Linked DNA regions of Homo sapiens: region 2 is linked to region 1. A link means that fine-mapping ties the variant in region 1 to the expression of a gene that starts in the linked region. Tissue or cell type: skeletal muscle. Region 1 holds a variant in brackets; the other region holds the start of a gene. All regions are shown on one strand. Distances are from middle to middle.

The links. PIP is the estimated chance that this variant, and not a neighbour inherited with it, causes the effect.
Region 2: TNFRSF10D starts here. The variant in region 1 is fine-mapped to the expression of TNFRSF10D in skeletal muscle (GTEx, PIP 0.98).

The regions. Positions count from the first base shown.
Region 1 is chr8:23,138,624-23,146,750 of GRCh38, forward strand. It overlaps TNFRSF10D (TNF receptor superfamily member 10d), which reads right to left. Exons shown (of 9, transcript NM_003840.5): 5 at 7,045-7,298; 6 at 6,435-6,466; 7 at 5,827-6,012. Among named protein-coding and RNA genes, the nearest start is that of TNFRSF10D, 21 kb to the right of the region's middle. RefSeq lists an enhancer at 5,967-6,694. The variant T/C (reference allele first, on the strand shown) is at 4,047.
Region 2 is chr8:23,158,908-23,167,034 of GRCh38, forward strand. TNFRSF10D (TNF receptor superfamily member 10d) reads right to left here and starts at 5,120. Exons shown (of 9, transcript NM_003840.5): 1 at 4,879-5,120. The coding sequence starts at 5,028. RefSeq lists an enhancer at 4,858-4,977.

The DNA.
Region 1 (8,127 bases):
ACCAGCAGAGTCTCGGCAGACTATATATGAGAGCACCCAGGAAAACCTAACAAAATGATTTATCCCAAGACTGTAAATGATCTTTGATCATCAGTACTCTACCATATCAATAGCGTAATTAAATAAAATGGCAGTCTCTATGGAGGCTGGAAAGACATTTGGTAAAATTAAACAGCAATTCTGATTTTTTTCAAACCCTTTTAGAATAGTAAGCTGTGTTCTTGATGATGAGAATTTCTATATGAAACCAAAAGTGAATGCCATTGCTAAGAGTGACACTTTGGAGGCCTTCCCCAGAAATCAAATCAGGACCCAAACACCTGCCTTCCCTAAGCACAGCTGAATATTGTTCTGAAAGGTCTGGCCTAGGCAACAAGATGGAAAATTAAAATGAGGCAAGACTTTTGGAAGAGGGCAGACACAATAATCATTATTTTCAACGTCATTTAAAACCCCTAAGATGAAACTACAATATTGAAATAGAAATGTATGTCTGGAGGAATGTTAAAAACATAGCAAATGCAATAAATTAGCAAACAGAATTACAAGGTTATCCAACTCATAATGGATACAAAATACTAAACAGCCATAAGAAACAGGAATAATTTATTTGAAGAGGAACACAAATCACAACTCAGTTACAATAAAATACTTGACACCAAATGTTATCTCCTTTGATAAGGAAATACTGAATATTAATAAAATATTCAGTGTTTCTAGATTAATTTTTAATTTTAAAGCGAATTGATAAAACGGCAACTGAGGTTTTTCGGGAGGGAAGGATGGAGGAAATCTTTTAATTCTAAATTTTATCTGGGTAAAATAATACATTTTGAAAAAGTATGGAAGAGGTGTTTGCTCTTTTGGATGTTAAAAAACATTAGAAAGTTCCCATTGGAACATGCCTCAAAATGGTAAGAGCCATCTATGACAAACCCACAGCCAACATCATACTGAATGGGCCAAAGCTGGAAGCATTCCCCTTGAGAACTGGAACAAGGCAAGGATGCTCACGCTCACCACTCCCATTCAACATAGTACTGGAAGTCCTAGTCAGAGCACTCAGGCAAGAGAAAGAAAGAAAAGGCATCCAGATATGAAATGAAGAAGTGAAAACTCTTCATGGACGATATGATTCTATACCTTGGAAACCCTAAATACTCCACCAAAAGGCCCCTGGAACTAATAAACGACTTCAGCAAAATTTCAGGATACAAAATCAATGTATAAAAATCAGTAGCACCGGGCACCGTGGCTCACACCTGTAATCCCAGCACTTTGGGAGGCCGAGGCAGGCGGATCACGATGTCAAGAGTTCAAGACCAGCACGACCAACATGGTGAAACCCCGTCTCTACTAAAGAATACAAAAATTAACGGGGCGTAGCTGGGTACGGTGGCTCACGCCTGTAATCTCAGCACTTTGGGAGGCCAAGGAGGGCGGATCACAAGGTCAGGAGATCGAGACCATCCTGGCTAACACGGTGAAACCCCACCTCTACTAAAAATACAAAAAACTAACCAGGCGTGGCAGTGTGCGCCTGTAATCCCAGCTGCTGGGGAGGCTGAGGCAGGAGAATGGCGTGAACCTGGGAGGTGGAGCTTGCAGTGAGCTGAGATCGCGCCACTGCACTCCAGCCTGGGTGACAGAGCAAGACTCTGTCTCAAAAAGAAAAAAAATCAGTAGCATATCTATATACCAATAATGTTCAGGCTGAGGACCAAATCAATAACACAATCCCATTTACAACAGACACACACACACACACACACACACACACACACACACACACACAATACCTAGAAATACCTCTACCCAAGGATGTGAAAGATCTCTAAGAGAATTACAAAACACTGCTAAAAGAAATCATAGATAACATGAACAAATGGAAAAACATTCCATGCTCATGGATTGGAAGAATTAATATGGCTAAAATGGGCATACTGCTGAAATCAATCTACAGATTTAATACTACTCCTATCAAATTACCAATGTCATTTTCCACAGAATTGGAAAAAATTATTGGAAGTAACTGAATCACGTGGACTGGTTTTTCCAGTTCTGTTCTTGTGATAGTGAATAAGACTCACAAGAGCTGATGGTTTTATAAAGAGCAGTCCCCTGCACACGCTCTCTTGCCTGTCGCCATGTAAGATGTGCCTTTGCTCATCTTTCACCTCAGGCCATGATTGTGAGGCCTCCCCAGCCATGTGGAACTGTGAGTCCATTAAACCTCTTTTTCTTTATAAATTACCCAGTCTCAAGTATTTCTTCATAGCAGTATGAAAATGGAATAATACAACTCCCCATTCAACAGCTGATGCTTCGGATATTTGGCTAGCCATATGCAGAACAACGAAAACTAGACCCCTACTTTTCACCATATACACAAATTAACTCAAGGTAGATTAAAAGTTTAAAGGTAAGACCATGAACTATAAGAATTCTAGAAGAAAACCTAGAAAACACCCCTCTGGACATCAGCCATGGCAAAGAATTTATGATTAAGTCCTCAAAAGCAATGCAATAAAAACAAAAATTGTCAAGTGGCATCTAATTGAACTAAAGACCTTCTGCACAGCAGAAGAAACTCTCCACAGGCCGGGTGTGGGGGCTCACACTTATAATACCAGCACTTTGAGAGGACGAGGCAGGCAGATCACCTGAGGTTAGGAGTTCGAGACCAGCCTGACCAACAAGACAAAACCCCATCTCTACTAAAAATACAAAAATTAGCTGGGCATGGTGGCACGTGCCTGCAATCCCAGCAACTAGGGGGGCTGAGGAGGGAGAATCACTTGAACCCGGGAGGCGGAGGTTGCAGTGAGCTGAGATCATGCCACTGAATTCCAGCCTAGGTGACAGAGCGAGAGTACATCTCAAAAAAAAAAAAAAGTATCAACAGAGTAACAGACAACCTACAGAATGGGAGAAAATATTTACAAACTATGCATCTGACAAAGGTCTAATATTCAGGAGCCATATGCAACTTAAATGAACACACAGAAAACAACCCCATTAAAAATGGGCAAAAGACATGAACACACATGTCTCAAAAGAAGACATACAAGTGGCCAACAAACATATGAAAAAATGCTCATCATCATGAATCATCAGAGAAATGCAAATCAAAACTACAGTGGGATACCATCTCATACAGTGAGAATGGCGATTATTAAAAAGCCAGTAACAGTAAATGCTGGCGAGACTATGAAGAAAAAGGATCATTTATATACTTTTGGTGGGAATGTAAATTAGTTCAGCCAGTATGGAAAGGAGTTTGGAGATTTCTCAAAGAATTTTAAAACAACTACTATTTAACACAGCAAACCCACTACTGGGTATACATAGAAAAGAAAACAAATCTGCTGGGCGCGGTGGCTCACACCTGTAATCCCAGCACTTTGGGAGGCCGAGGTGGATGGATCACGAGGTCAGGAATTCAAGACCAGCCTGCCCAAGACGGTGAAACCCCGTCTCTACTAAAAATACAAAAAATTAGCCGGGTATGGTGGCACATGCCTGTAATCCCAGCTACTCTGGAGGCTGAGGCAGAGAACTGCTTAAACCTGGAGGGGCGGAGGTTGCAGTGAGCCGAGATTGTGCCACTGCACTCCAGCCTGGGTGACAGAGCGAGACTCCCTCTCAAAAAAAAAAAGGGAAAACAAATCATTCTACCAAAAGACACCACTATCCATAATAGCAGTGACATGGAATCAACCTAGGTTCCCATCAACAGTGGATTGGATGAAGACAATGTGGCATATATACACCATAGGTTACCACACAGCCATAAAAAAGAATGAAATCATATTGTTTGCAGCCACATGGATGAAGCTGGAGGCCATCATCCTAAGTGAATTAATGTAGGAACGCAAAACCAAATACTGCGTGTTCTCATTTATAAGTAGTAGCTAAACATCAGGTACTTACGACCATAAAGATGGCAACAATAGACACTGGGGACTACCAGGGCGGGGAGGGAGCGAGAGGAGGAAGGGGTGAAAAACTAACTGTTGGATACTGTGCCCACAACCTGGATAAAA[T/C]CATTCATACCTCAAATTTCAGCATCAAACAAACTTACATATGTACCCCCTGAATCAAAATAAATTTGAAAAAGGAAAAATAAAAAATGAAAAAAAGTTTCCTTGGCAGTGTATTATATGTAAAGTAATCCCTGTAATGTAAACAAAATGTACATACGCTTGTATGAATATACATGGCATATGCATAAAGATTTCTACAAAGAATCACAAGAAATTATCTGTTGTATTCACCTGAATGAAGAAGGGCTGGGGGCTGGAGGAAGTGTTAGGGGACTACCACTATGACTCAGCACCTTTGTTTTTTTTTTGTTTTTGTTTTTGTTTTGAGATGGAGTCTGACTCTGTAGCCCAGGCTGGAGTGCAGTGGCGTGATCTCGGCTCACTGCAGGCTCCGCCTCACGGGTTCACGCCATTCTCCTGCCTCAGCCTCCCGAGTAGCTGGGACTACAGGCACCCGCTACCACGCCCGGCTAATTTTTTGTATTTTTAGTAGAGGTGGGGTTTCACCATGTTGGCCAGGATGGTCTCCATCTCTTGACCTTGTGATCCACCCTCCTCGGCCTCCCAAAGTGCTGGGATTACAGGCATGAGCCACGGCGCCCGGCCGACTGAGCACCTTTCTATAGTGTGGCAGATGTGTGGCTCTGCATTTACCACTTTCAAAAAATGTGCAGCGCGGCCAGGTGCAGTGGCTTATGCCTGTAATCCCACCACTTTGGGAGGCCAAGGTGAGAGGATGACTTGAGGCCAGGAGTTTGAGACCAGCCTGGGCAACATAGCAAGATCAGATCTCTACAAATTACAAAACAAAGGTGCAATGCGATTCAGCAGCGTGGAGTAATTGTTGATATTTTTTGTTTATTTCCTTACCTTTTTATACTTCCCTTCATTAAAAAAAATGGGGTATAGTTATAGGAAAGGAAGAAAATGGGTGGAAAGTGAACCTTGTCTAGGTAAGTATTTGACAAGTGATCAAAGAGGAGCCAAAAGCAGAGAAAAATAGGAGAATCAGTTCCTAAACAGGCGTGGAGGAAGGAGACAGTGACTCACAACAATTCAGGGAATTCCTCACTTCACACAGCATCACAAAAGAAATGGCACCTACGTTCCACTGGTGTATGCTACAAACCAAATCATTCTTTAAAAGTCCACAAAAAATTAGGTAGGATCATCTTATTTTATCCTGAAGGAAAGAACTTAAAAAAAAACAAATGTGTGTCCAGATTTCACACCTACTCAATGTCATATCAAAACTAGTGAATCGATGTGAATAACTGGATGTGTGTGTTTCTGTAATACAAAAGCACTTCTACACACTGACTCAGAAATCCTACTTCTTCCCAGAAGCCTCCTTACATACTTGATCAGAAATCTGGACAAAGATTTACTGTGAAATATGTTCAATGTAGTAAGAATTTTGAAGAACATTTAAAACTTCCGCTGTTTCAAGCAAGGGCTCCCTGACTTCTGTTAGGAGCACACGATGGAGACTGTGCAGCCTTATTCAGTCCTCAGTGAACCCTGTGACACCCACTCTATGCCTGTGGAGATCCAGGCTCTGGGGACACAGCAAGGACAGGACAGGGAGTAAGAAGCAGATGTCCTGCAGACTGGCACGGTCACCACCTCAGTGCAGCTGCTCCGTCCCCTGCAGTCCCCTGTCTCCCAAAGGCTCCATGTCCCCTTGGGCCAGGAAAGAGGAGGCACTGCCATGTCCCACTGTCTACAAAGTCCTGTGCAGGCTGCACGCCAGGCAGGGCACAGTCCCTCCTCAACTCACCAGCAGACGCTGTGGCTCCTCTGGCAACTCTACAGTCACACCTGTTAGCTCTGCCAGCTCCTGACCTTGGATTTCCTGCTCAGAGACCTGGGTGGGCTGCAAGTATCTGTTACTCAGGGTCTCGTTGCGGGCATTGTCCTCCGCCCCAGGAACTCGTGAAGGACATGAACGCCGCCGGAAAAGGACCTTGGGAAGACAAAGAGCCCACTCAAGTCCACACCCCGGGCTCAGCTTCAGGGTCCCCAGTACACAGCTGGACCTGCCATCCCCAACCCCTTCCAATGAGGTCACCCCAGGCAGCTGAGGCTCAGCACATCCAGGACCCCATGCTGAGGTGGGTCAGGTGGTCACCCCATCCCCATGGGGCCAGCTGTGGAGTGATGGTGTCACCGAGGCTGCAGGAAGGACAGGGCTGCAGCACGGCCTGCTGGTCTGTGTGCTGCTCAAAATGGCCGTGTGTCCCCCACAGTCAGCCCAGATCCCCCAGGCCATGTCAGAGAGTCAGGGCAGCCATGAGGACAAGGGATTGTGCCCACCCAGGCTCGGCAGTGGATGGGAAGCAGTTCCTGAACCCACGAAGCCCCCAGTTTCTGGAGAAACCAACTCACTCTGTGCACACGTTCGGGACCTCCTCCACCACCTGGAAAAGAAGCAGTCTCCTGAGCAGGCGGGGAGGGGCCCATGCAGCACCTCCCTCCCAGAGGACAGTGGGGCGCAGGGCTGGCTGGGGGCTGGGACACTGGACAAGGAGCCCTGGGGCTGGGGACAGAATGGGGCCTTGCAATTAGGGGACACCCTGAGGAAGGGGGATGAGAAGGGGAACTAGAGTAAAAACCAACACGTGGAAAATCTCTGTGTTCTGCTCTGACCAAGGCTGAATAAATCCCACGACCACTTCTCATCCTGACCCTTGTCACCCAGTTGAGGAGCTGACTGCCCCCTGCCTGGCTGGGCCTGAAGATAGGAGGAACTGGCCCTGCCCTCCTGGAGTTGGCTCCGGGAGATGAGGGGTCCCCCAGCCCTGAGAGAGGGACTGATGAGACCAGGGTCCTTGGGGATACACAGGACGTGGGGATGGGGCGATCACAAGAAGGAAGACCAAGCCAGGCTGGAGACGCTTGGACCAGGGGCAGGGATGGGGATTACTGTCTGTGGGAACGGAGTGGGAGAGGGCAGGGCAGACAGTGCCCAGCGCTCCCACCCTCAGCCAGCACCTACCTGAGCAGATGCCTTTGAGGTAAGAAATGAATTTCTTCCGACATGAAAAGCCAACCACAACCACAGCTAAAATGATGACTAAAACCACTATGATGATAAGGTAGTGATAGGGAGAGGCAAGCATCCCCAGGATGGTGGTCACTGTCTCCTCCGCTGCTGGGGTTTTCCCAGTGGAACTGGCAGCTGATTCATTTTTGCACTTGATGTCACTCCGGGGCGTACAATTACTGACCTTGACCATCCCTCTGGGACACCTGGGTACACACAGAGAGGGAGACAGGGACTCTTGATGGAAAGCTGGCCAGGTGGGATGAAAGAGGAGCCACCCTCCCTGCCCAAAGTCCCTGAGAAGGCGTCAGGAGGACAGGCTCCTCGTGTCAGCAGTGGGTCCCCCTGTGCTCCCTTCTTGAGGCTGGGGAAGGGTCTGAGCATGCACACTTCAGCCCCTCGGCCTCCCTGCTCTGGGGTCAGAGCTGTAGATCCAGGAGCCTTCTGTGCTGGGCACACACTGAGCTTCCCTGGGCTGCAGGGGAGGCCTGCGTTAGGAGGAGCCGCACTCCAGGGGAAGATCACAAGCCCCTGTGGCCACAAGCTGAGCCCCTTCCTCCAGTTAACACACAGTACAAGTGAGTCCTCGCCCCACCCTGTCTGCCGCTGGTTCCTCCCAACCACAGCAAACACTGGAGGGCCAGAGAAGAGCAAGTTACTCTTTGCCCCTAAAACCCAAATAGGATAAAGAAGGACTTAGTGAGAAATCGGGGGCCAGGGGTGAGGCCGGCTGGGTGGGCTCAGGTCCTCATGGGAACTTAAGGGAGCTCCACCCATGGCCTTATTATGACTTTTGTGGGCTACGGACACTTTTGTCTTTATGGGTCCCTGCCCACATAAAAAATATTAAAAATTACATTTTTTAAACCAACTTAGAGTAAGGAAAAATACAAGCCAGGCTGGATTCAAGTGTTTTCTTCTGATTTCAAAAGGAAATTACATTTCCTAGGTTGCCTGAAAAGGTTCAAGGGACCTAGAAAGTCACCTCCTGTGCCCAGTGAACAATTCAGCCTGGACAAAGGGACTCCTGCTGGG
Region 2 (8,127 bases), 20 kb after region 1:
ATGACATGTCTACCGTCCTGCAGTGTTTCTTCATTTTTCAATGTAATCCTCTCTTCTGCTTTGCTCCTATGTCCCCAGCAATGCTTCTTCTGCTTTTTATCACAATAGATTAGTTGTATTTTAATAAGATGAGGAATCACATGGTATGCATTCTGCTTGTATTCCTTCACACGACATGATTTTCTGTGTGTGTGTGTGTGTCTGTGTCTGTGGTTTTTGGTTTTATTTTGGTTTTTGGTTTTGAGACAGCATTTTGCTATGTTTCCCAGGCCGGTCTTGAACTCCTGGGCTCTAAGGATGCACCCACCTGGGCAGGACTATACATGTGAGCCATCGCACCTGCCCACCCACCCTGGCCCATTGACTATTATCAGTTAAAGGCTACTGAAAAACAGCAGGCGCAATAAGATGCTTTGACCTCTTTTGTGTTTCCTAAAAGCAGGAGATGAAAGTCCCCAGGGAAACATAGGACGATCTCCTTATTTTTAAGGATGAGAAGTCGAGGCCAAGAGATTACTGTGCAGACCTTGTTAGAACAGAACCACTCAGCTTTTTAGCCTCCATATATTTACTAGCTTCTTCACAAGTTACTTGGTCCAATTCAATATATAAGTAACTGACTCTCACTGCTTCTCTGTGCTAGGTAAAACTTGCATTAAATAAATGTGTGTGTTGGCTGGGCATGGTGGCACACACCTGTAATCCCAGCATTTTGGAAGGCTGAGATGGGCGGATCACCTGAGCTCGACTTCGAGACCAGCCTGGACAACATGACAAAACCCCGTCTCTACTAAAAATACAAAAATTAGCCAGGCGCAAGGGTGGGCACCTGTAATCCCAAGGTACTCAGGAGGCTGAAGCAGGAGAATCGCTTGAATCTGGGAGGCGGAGGTTGCAGTGAGCCGAGATTGCACCACTGCACTCCAGCCTGGGTGACAGAACAATACTCCATCTCAAGAAAAAAGAAGTCGTACGTGCTTTTCTCCTGTGTACCTGTCTTATGTCAATTTAATTCTCAGGTCCAGCCAAAAAAAAAAAGCCCTTCAAGGGGAGCTTCGCTTCCCTCTATGACTCTCAATGGTGACTCTAACCAAACACCATCCTCCACGCCAACAATACCACATCCTATAGCCTTGCACCAACACGGCCTCTCTGGAGGAGGGGGAGGCAATGGTGGTGAGATATCAGGCCTCCCTCATGCTACCTCCTATTAGTTATATGATTCCTGGTGTCACCTCACCCACCACACTGTGGGCTCCAGGAAGCAGGATTCACATGGGGTTCATCTGTCCTCCCTGGCTCCAGCAGACTCCAAAGACAATAAAGAGCTCATTGTCTATTTCCTGGGTGACTCACTTTCCCCCCAAGCCCATGAGGTGAGCGCAGTGGCGGCCTCAGCTTACCACCTAAGGACAGGCTCCAGGCTGTGGCACAGGGAGGGGACTCCGAAGAGCCCTGTGGACTCTGCTGAGGACCCATAGGAGCTCCCAGAGGCCAAGTGCAGGACAGAGATCAGAGAAGCAGCTCCTCAGAGAACTCTAGCCCTTCAGAGGCCCAAATATGGCTGCTATTATTCAGAAGGTGAGGACAAAAATGCTGGAGACATTGCTCCTGAATCTCATTTTGCCACCTGTAAAACAGGGAAAACAACCTGCCCTCATGTCCCCTGGTTGTTAGGAAAATCCACTACACGAAGATGTACACTCTCTGGCTGGGAGCAGGATACCAGCTGCCCAACAGCACAGGCTCGGGGCATGGCACTGTCCCCACTGTCTCCATCCCCAACCTGGAAGCTAGAGCCTCGCTACCCTGCCACTCCTGGATACAGGACAGAGAACCAGAACTGGGACCGTGGCCTCTCAGTAGGGGCTGGGTGAGCAGCCATCTGCAGCCACCTGGATGGAGACCTTTCCTGCTCATCTTCAAACTCCAACCCGGGCCGGACACCCACCAGAAGCACAACTGGAAACTTGGCAGGTAAACCAGGCTGTGGCCCTGCAGTGCCATCGCTGTCCTCACTTGAACTCTGGCTCCTCTGTTCCTCGATGGCCCCTCCACATGGTGCTCCACCCCAGTCTTCAGAAGCTTCTGCCCCAAGGCCAGGGAGCCTGGTATGGAGGTGCAAGTAGGAACAGGTGCAGCCTCTGCTGGGTGGAGGACATGTGCCCTGGGGATCCAGTCCGGAGTGACTGACACCAGCCCTGAGGATGTGGTTCATCCTCCCACACCTGCTAACACAGCCCTCTGAGGTTTACACAGGGCTGCTGAAGATTTTTATCTCCTCTTCACTTTACAGGCAGGAGCTGGGGCCACACCAGTGTCACAGAGCTGGAGGGGAAGCACAGCAGGGCCCAGCTGTTCCCAGCCTCCAATCTCAGGAGTCCTTGAGAGCCTCAGAGTCCGAGATTCTGGGCCGTTGGATCTTTTCGATTCCTACTTTGATAAAGAGAAGGGCGGGGCGGAAGCCTCTGTCACACAGATTGGAACAGTCCAACGCTGACAGAGCCAGGACCTGGGGTCAGGAACTGAGCTCAGCTCCAGGCTCATCTGATGTCCTCCTGACAGCCTGAAGATGGAGACCTTATCTCCATTTACAGGCGTGGCAGGTGGCAGGGACTGGCCCCAGCTGACCACGGTTCTCCAAGTTCACAGCTGGGAATTCAGTCTTCCCTGCCACCCTCCCCTGCTGTCTCATCTGGATCCCCCGGTCATCTACTCCCACTACCAAAACTCCCGTATCCTTGAAAATTCCTAATACCATTAAGGAATGAAAGTACATAACAATGTGATGAATCACCTTTTACTTCCTAGACTAGCAACGAATGAAAGCTAAGTGTAACAAGGGTGTAGGGATACAGGCACATGTGTGAACTAGGTGTGAGTGTAAGCTGAGTTCAATGGTCTTTTGGAAGAAAATTCGTAAACATCTAAAGAAACTTCTGAAATGATTTATCCCACGGAAGTAGAAGTAAAATTCTACTTCTAAGGAGTTGCCCAATAAGCTGGTGCGCATGGACATGTGGACACACGATACATACAAGGGTATTTAGTACAATGCTGTTGGAATTAGCAAAGGCAAATTTGCTTTGGGTTATATCCCATCGGGATGGGATATAACCAGCTGCCTCTAGATGGCAACAGTGAATTAACCTGTGGCTTACCCATGTAGTAAAATACAATACCCTTGTTTAAAAGAAAATCAATCTGAATGTACTGCCATAAAACATCTAATGTGATTTGTGCTAGCTCCAAAATTTTAAAAAGCAACTGTGCATTGAAATGCATTTAATAAGGCAAGATTGATGGAGGGATCAAAGCCTCCTTTGGGACGCATAGAGTTCACATTCCCAAAACTGTGAAATTCAGGTTGCTGGTCTTGTCTACACAGGTCATCCACACATTCTCTCTTCAGGGCCACTGTCCTGACACAGCCATTCTTCTAGCTGCCTCAGGTAGGTCCACCCACTATAAACTATTGTAGAAGTCAGTTGTGTAATTTTTGAGAGGTGAAAATGTCACTGCTGTTCTGAATTTAGTATTACTTCGTTGAAAGAAAACATGGAGACTCTCATGGTTCATGTAATCTTGTTTTATCCTCCCCGTTTTGTTTTTTGGTATTACGTAAGAAACCTTAGAAAGCACTGTTGGCAGAAACGTCAGTCACTCAGAAAAAGTCCTGGCAGTCTGCACATCTTATTTTTATGTCCTTCTTGTGCACCCCACTACCAATCTCAGTTTCCAAACCCAACTCACAACGAGAACTTTACATCTTTTATGCCTAAGGAAGGGGCCATCCCGCGGTCCTGCCTATGGGATACAGAGGGGACACACGGGTGGCAGTGGAAGACACTGACTGCAAGCACCTTGGTTAACCGCTTCCTGCCACTTTCAGGGTTCTATAGGAAATGAAAGTTACAAAAAACAGCGTTGGAAAGCTTTTTCACAGGCTGTTTGTTAAACTGATCTCCAAGAAACACGTGTAACAGTGTAAACATAGGGTTAATTTTGTTTGTTTGTTTGTCTGTTTTTGTTAAGGCAGAGTCTCGCTCTGTCGCCCAGGCTGGAGTGCAGTGGTGCAATCTCGGCTCACTGCAACCTCTGCCTCCCGGGTTCAAGCAGTTCTCCTGCCTCAGCCTCCTGAGTAGCTGGGACTACAGGCGCAGGCTGCCACGCCTGGCTAACTTTTTTTTTTTTTTTTTTTTTTTTTTTGAGACGGAGTCTCGCTCTTGTTGACCAGGCTGGAGTGCGATGGCGCGATCTCGGCTCACTGCAACCTCCGCCTCCCGGATTCAAGTGATTCTCCTTCTGCCTCAGCCTCCCGAGTAGCTGGGATTACAGGCGACCGCCATCACGTCCGGCTAATTTTTGTATTTTTAGTAGAGACGGGGTTTCACCATGGTGGCTAGGCTGGTCTCCAACTCCTGACCTCAGGTGATCCGCCCGCCTCGGCCTCCCAACGTGCTGGGATTACAGGCGTGAGCCACCGCGACCGGCCTGGGTTAACGTTATGAACGAACGAACGAACGAACGAACGAAAGAGGCAACCGCTCTGTGGCTTCCTGAGGTTCACTCCGGGGTTTCCATCTTGACTCCCTCCCTCCGCTGATTCTGGAACTTCCTCTGGGGCAGCTCAGTGCGGTCCTCGCCGCACGGGACAGCCAGGGGGAGCGCGCGCTCTGCTCCCTCGCGGCCCGGTCGCTCCTGCCCAGCCCGGGCACCCCACTCTTCCCCTGACTCCGACGGCGGGTTCGTCCTGCCCAGACATGCCCGGCCGCAGGCGACCCGGGCCAAGCATCCCCACCGTGTCCCCCTCTCTCCCTGCCCACTCCCGGCGCCAGGTGCGCTCTTCCCCAGCCAGGGACCGCGGCGGAGACTCACCGGCAGCAGAACCGCGACGATGAAGACGACGAACTTAAGGATCTTGGGGTCCAGGAGCCATGGTCTGGTTCCCGACGCTGTCCTGGCTCCTGGATAGCGCCCTGCTCGAGCGCTCGAGGCGGTCGGGACGCTTTGTCCCCAAAGTCCCATGAGAAGGGAGGAGGGTGGATCGAAAGCGCCAAAAATCAATCAGAAATCGTCCCCGTAGTTTGTGCGCGTGCAAAGGTTCTCGCAGCTACACTGCCAGAATAGAACGTGCTCCTCCGCTTTTATACCCCGGAAAAAAGGCGTGGTCAGTTGTACTCCCTTCCCGCAGTCACTTCCAGGCACTCAGGCTGGGTCTCCCCCAGCACCTCCAGGAGGGCCCAGGTTGTGTGGGTGGGTGCATGGACGGACAGGAACTGGCTCTTTCCGGCAGCGGTGACCCAGGGCCTGCGGTTTGATTCCGGGTCCTGTCCAGGCTGTAGGCAGCAGAAGGGGAAGGAGCTGAGGCGCTGCCCGCTGCGCTGCTGTAGTCTGGGTAGTGAGCTCCAGAGGAGGCACTGGAGGCCCATCCTGAGCCTGCTCCCTCCCCGGGCCGCCTGTCTCTCCTCTTCTTAAACCCTGAACTACTTCCTGGCCTCAGGACTTCAGTCCACTCTTAGCTTCTGCTCCCACTCCCTCCTCCCACAGCGGCCTCACTGACCAGTGCACTGATGCCACTGATGTCTCCAGCCTCCTTGCTGCTGTGACCCAGCTCCAAGCTTCTCTGGCAGGGGCTTGGTATCCCTCAGTAGCGGGTGCCTGGCACCAAGGAGGGGCCCAGTGAACACATGAGTGGACAGAATGAAGGACACAGAGGCCATGACAGGCACCTGCAGAGGCTGAGGAGTAGGTAGGAGGGAGAGGAACGCCGGGGGCATCCCTAGCCACAACCTGGCACCCTTTGCATGGTCAAAGCACAAACACTCCCTGACCAACCTTGAGGGCTCTAGTATTGAGGCCCCATGGAGACAGGGGAATCAGGGGAGTGCCTTCCAAAGTCTGTCCCCAAGTCTATTGTCTACCCAGGTCCAACTGTCTGACCTTGGGCTACTTACCTCCCCATCCAGTTGAACACACTGCCGCTGTGAGGGCAGACCCAATGTGTGGTTTTGAAGGGTGCCAGCTTGTGACCCTAAGCAGTAAGGTCAATGGCAGGACTCCTAGACCCTTGGGATGAGTCGGCTCCTGACCCCTCACATGGTAGATAGAAGAGGATAGCGCTATAGAAATGAAGGTTTTTTGGCTCATGAGAAACCTGGGAATGAAATGTCATCCTCTCCACAGGCTTGGATTTGAGCGATGGATCACCCTGAGCACCTTCCAGGGCCCAGACAATGACCTAGGGTCAGAAATGTGAGCCAGGGCCGGGCGCGGTTGCTCACGCTTGTAGTCCCAGCACTTTGAGAGGCTGAGGTGGGCGAATCAAGAGGTCAGGAGTTCGAGACCAGCCTGGCCAACATAGTTAAACCCCATCTCTACTAAAAATACAAAAATTAGCTGGGCGTGGTGGCGGGCACTTGTAATCCCAGCTACTCAGGAAGCTGAGGCAGGAGAATTGCTTGAACCCAGGAAATGGAGGTTGCAGTGAGCCGAGATTCGTGCCACTGCACTCCAGTCTGGGTGACAGAGCGAGACTCTGTGAAAAAAAAAAAAAAGAAAAAAAAATGTGTGCCAGGTCCCAGGCACTGAGCTAGGGTCAGAAATGTGCGCCAGGTTTCAGGCACTGAGCTAGACTCAGAAATGTGTGTCAGGCCCCAGGCACTGAGCTAGGGTCAGAAATGTGTGTCAGGCCCCAGGCACTGAGCTAGGGTCAGAAATGTGCGCCAGGTTCCAGGCACTGAGCTAGGGTCAGAAATGTGTGCCAGGTTCCAGGCACTGAGCTAGACTCAGAAATGTGTGTCAGGCCCCAGGCACTGAGCTAGGGTCAGAAATGTGTGTCAGGCCCCAGGCACTGAGCTAGGGTCGGAAATGTGTGCCAGGCCCCAGACACTGAGCTAGGGTCAGAAATGTGTGCCAGGACCCAGGCAATGAGAAATGTGTGGGGTCAGGAATGTGTGCGGGGTGCAGATCCAGGCAGGAGGTGAAAGGTCAGGGACTTCAGGAAGACTGACAGCATTAACACAGAGCCACCAGGGCCTGCAGGAAAGTCCTTAGAGCACCTTAGCTCCCTTGGCCCTGGAGGGTGGACCACACAGTATAGACCAGAAACCAGACTGCAGGTAACAACGCATTCTCTGTGCCCTGTGTGGAGCACTGACTAGGGCTAATGGCAAAAGGCTGTGAGCACCTCCAAGGAACTGGGCCTTTAGAGTCAAGTTTCCACTTAAGAGGCACTTACTAGCTTGAGATGGAACACTAACTGAAGTCTCCCCTGTCACTGAAGGACATAAAATAATCTTGAAACCTGAAAAACTGATGATGTCTTCAGGAATCTTGGAAAAGCTCTAACGGGGAGGCCAGTCCCAGAAGAGTTCTATTACAAAATGGATTTTTTTTTTTTGAGATGGAGTCTCACTCTGTTGCCAGGTTGGAGTGCAGCACGATCCAGGCTCACTGCAACCTCTGCCTCCTGGGTTCAAGCGATTCTCCTGCCTCAGCCTCCCGAGTAGGTGGGATTACAGGCACATGCCACCACGCCTGGCTAATTTTTGAATTTTCAGTAGAGACGAGGGATCTTCATGTTGGCCCGGATGGTCTCGATCTCTTGACCTCGTGATCCACCCGCCTCAGCCTCCCAAAGTGCTGGGATTACAGGCGTGAGCCACCTCACTCAGCCTAAAAAATGGAAATGGTTGATATGGGATCCTGGTGCCTGAGGAAGGCAAAGAGGAGACACTCATGAGCAGGGAGCCTCTGTTCCCCTCAGACTGAGTCTGGAACTGGGTGAGGAGCTGCTGGATTCTGTGGTCACTTGGACATTGCCCTATACACAGCTCTTTACTTACTGACCAAGAGCTACTTAGTTTGTAGACAGTCATTCCTAGATGAATGGACAACATCCTACTTGGAAGGCCACCCCTCTGATGGAAGAAGGCAAAGGCAAATTGGCTAGGTGGGTTGGATTGCATGCTATTTTCCTAGCCTTATGGAAGATTTGAACAGCAGCAAAAGCCCCTGTACTTGAGTTTTTTTCTGGCTCATGGACAGTCGTCAATGTCCCGGTCATAGAGTTGGGAAGGAGAATGTGAAAGTTGATCGCACAAATTGGGTCATTCTTGTCACACC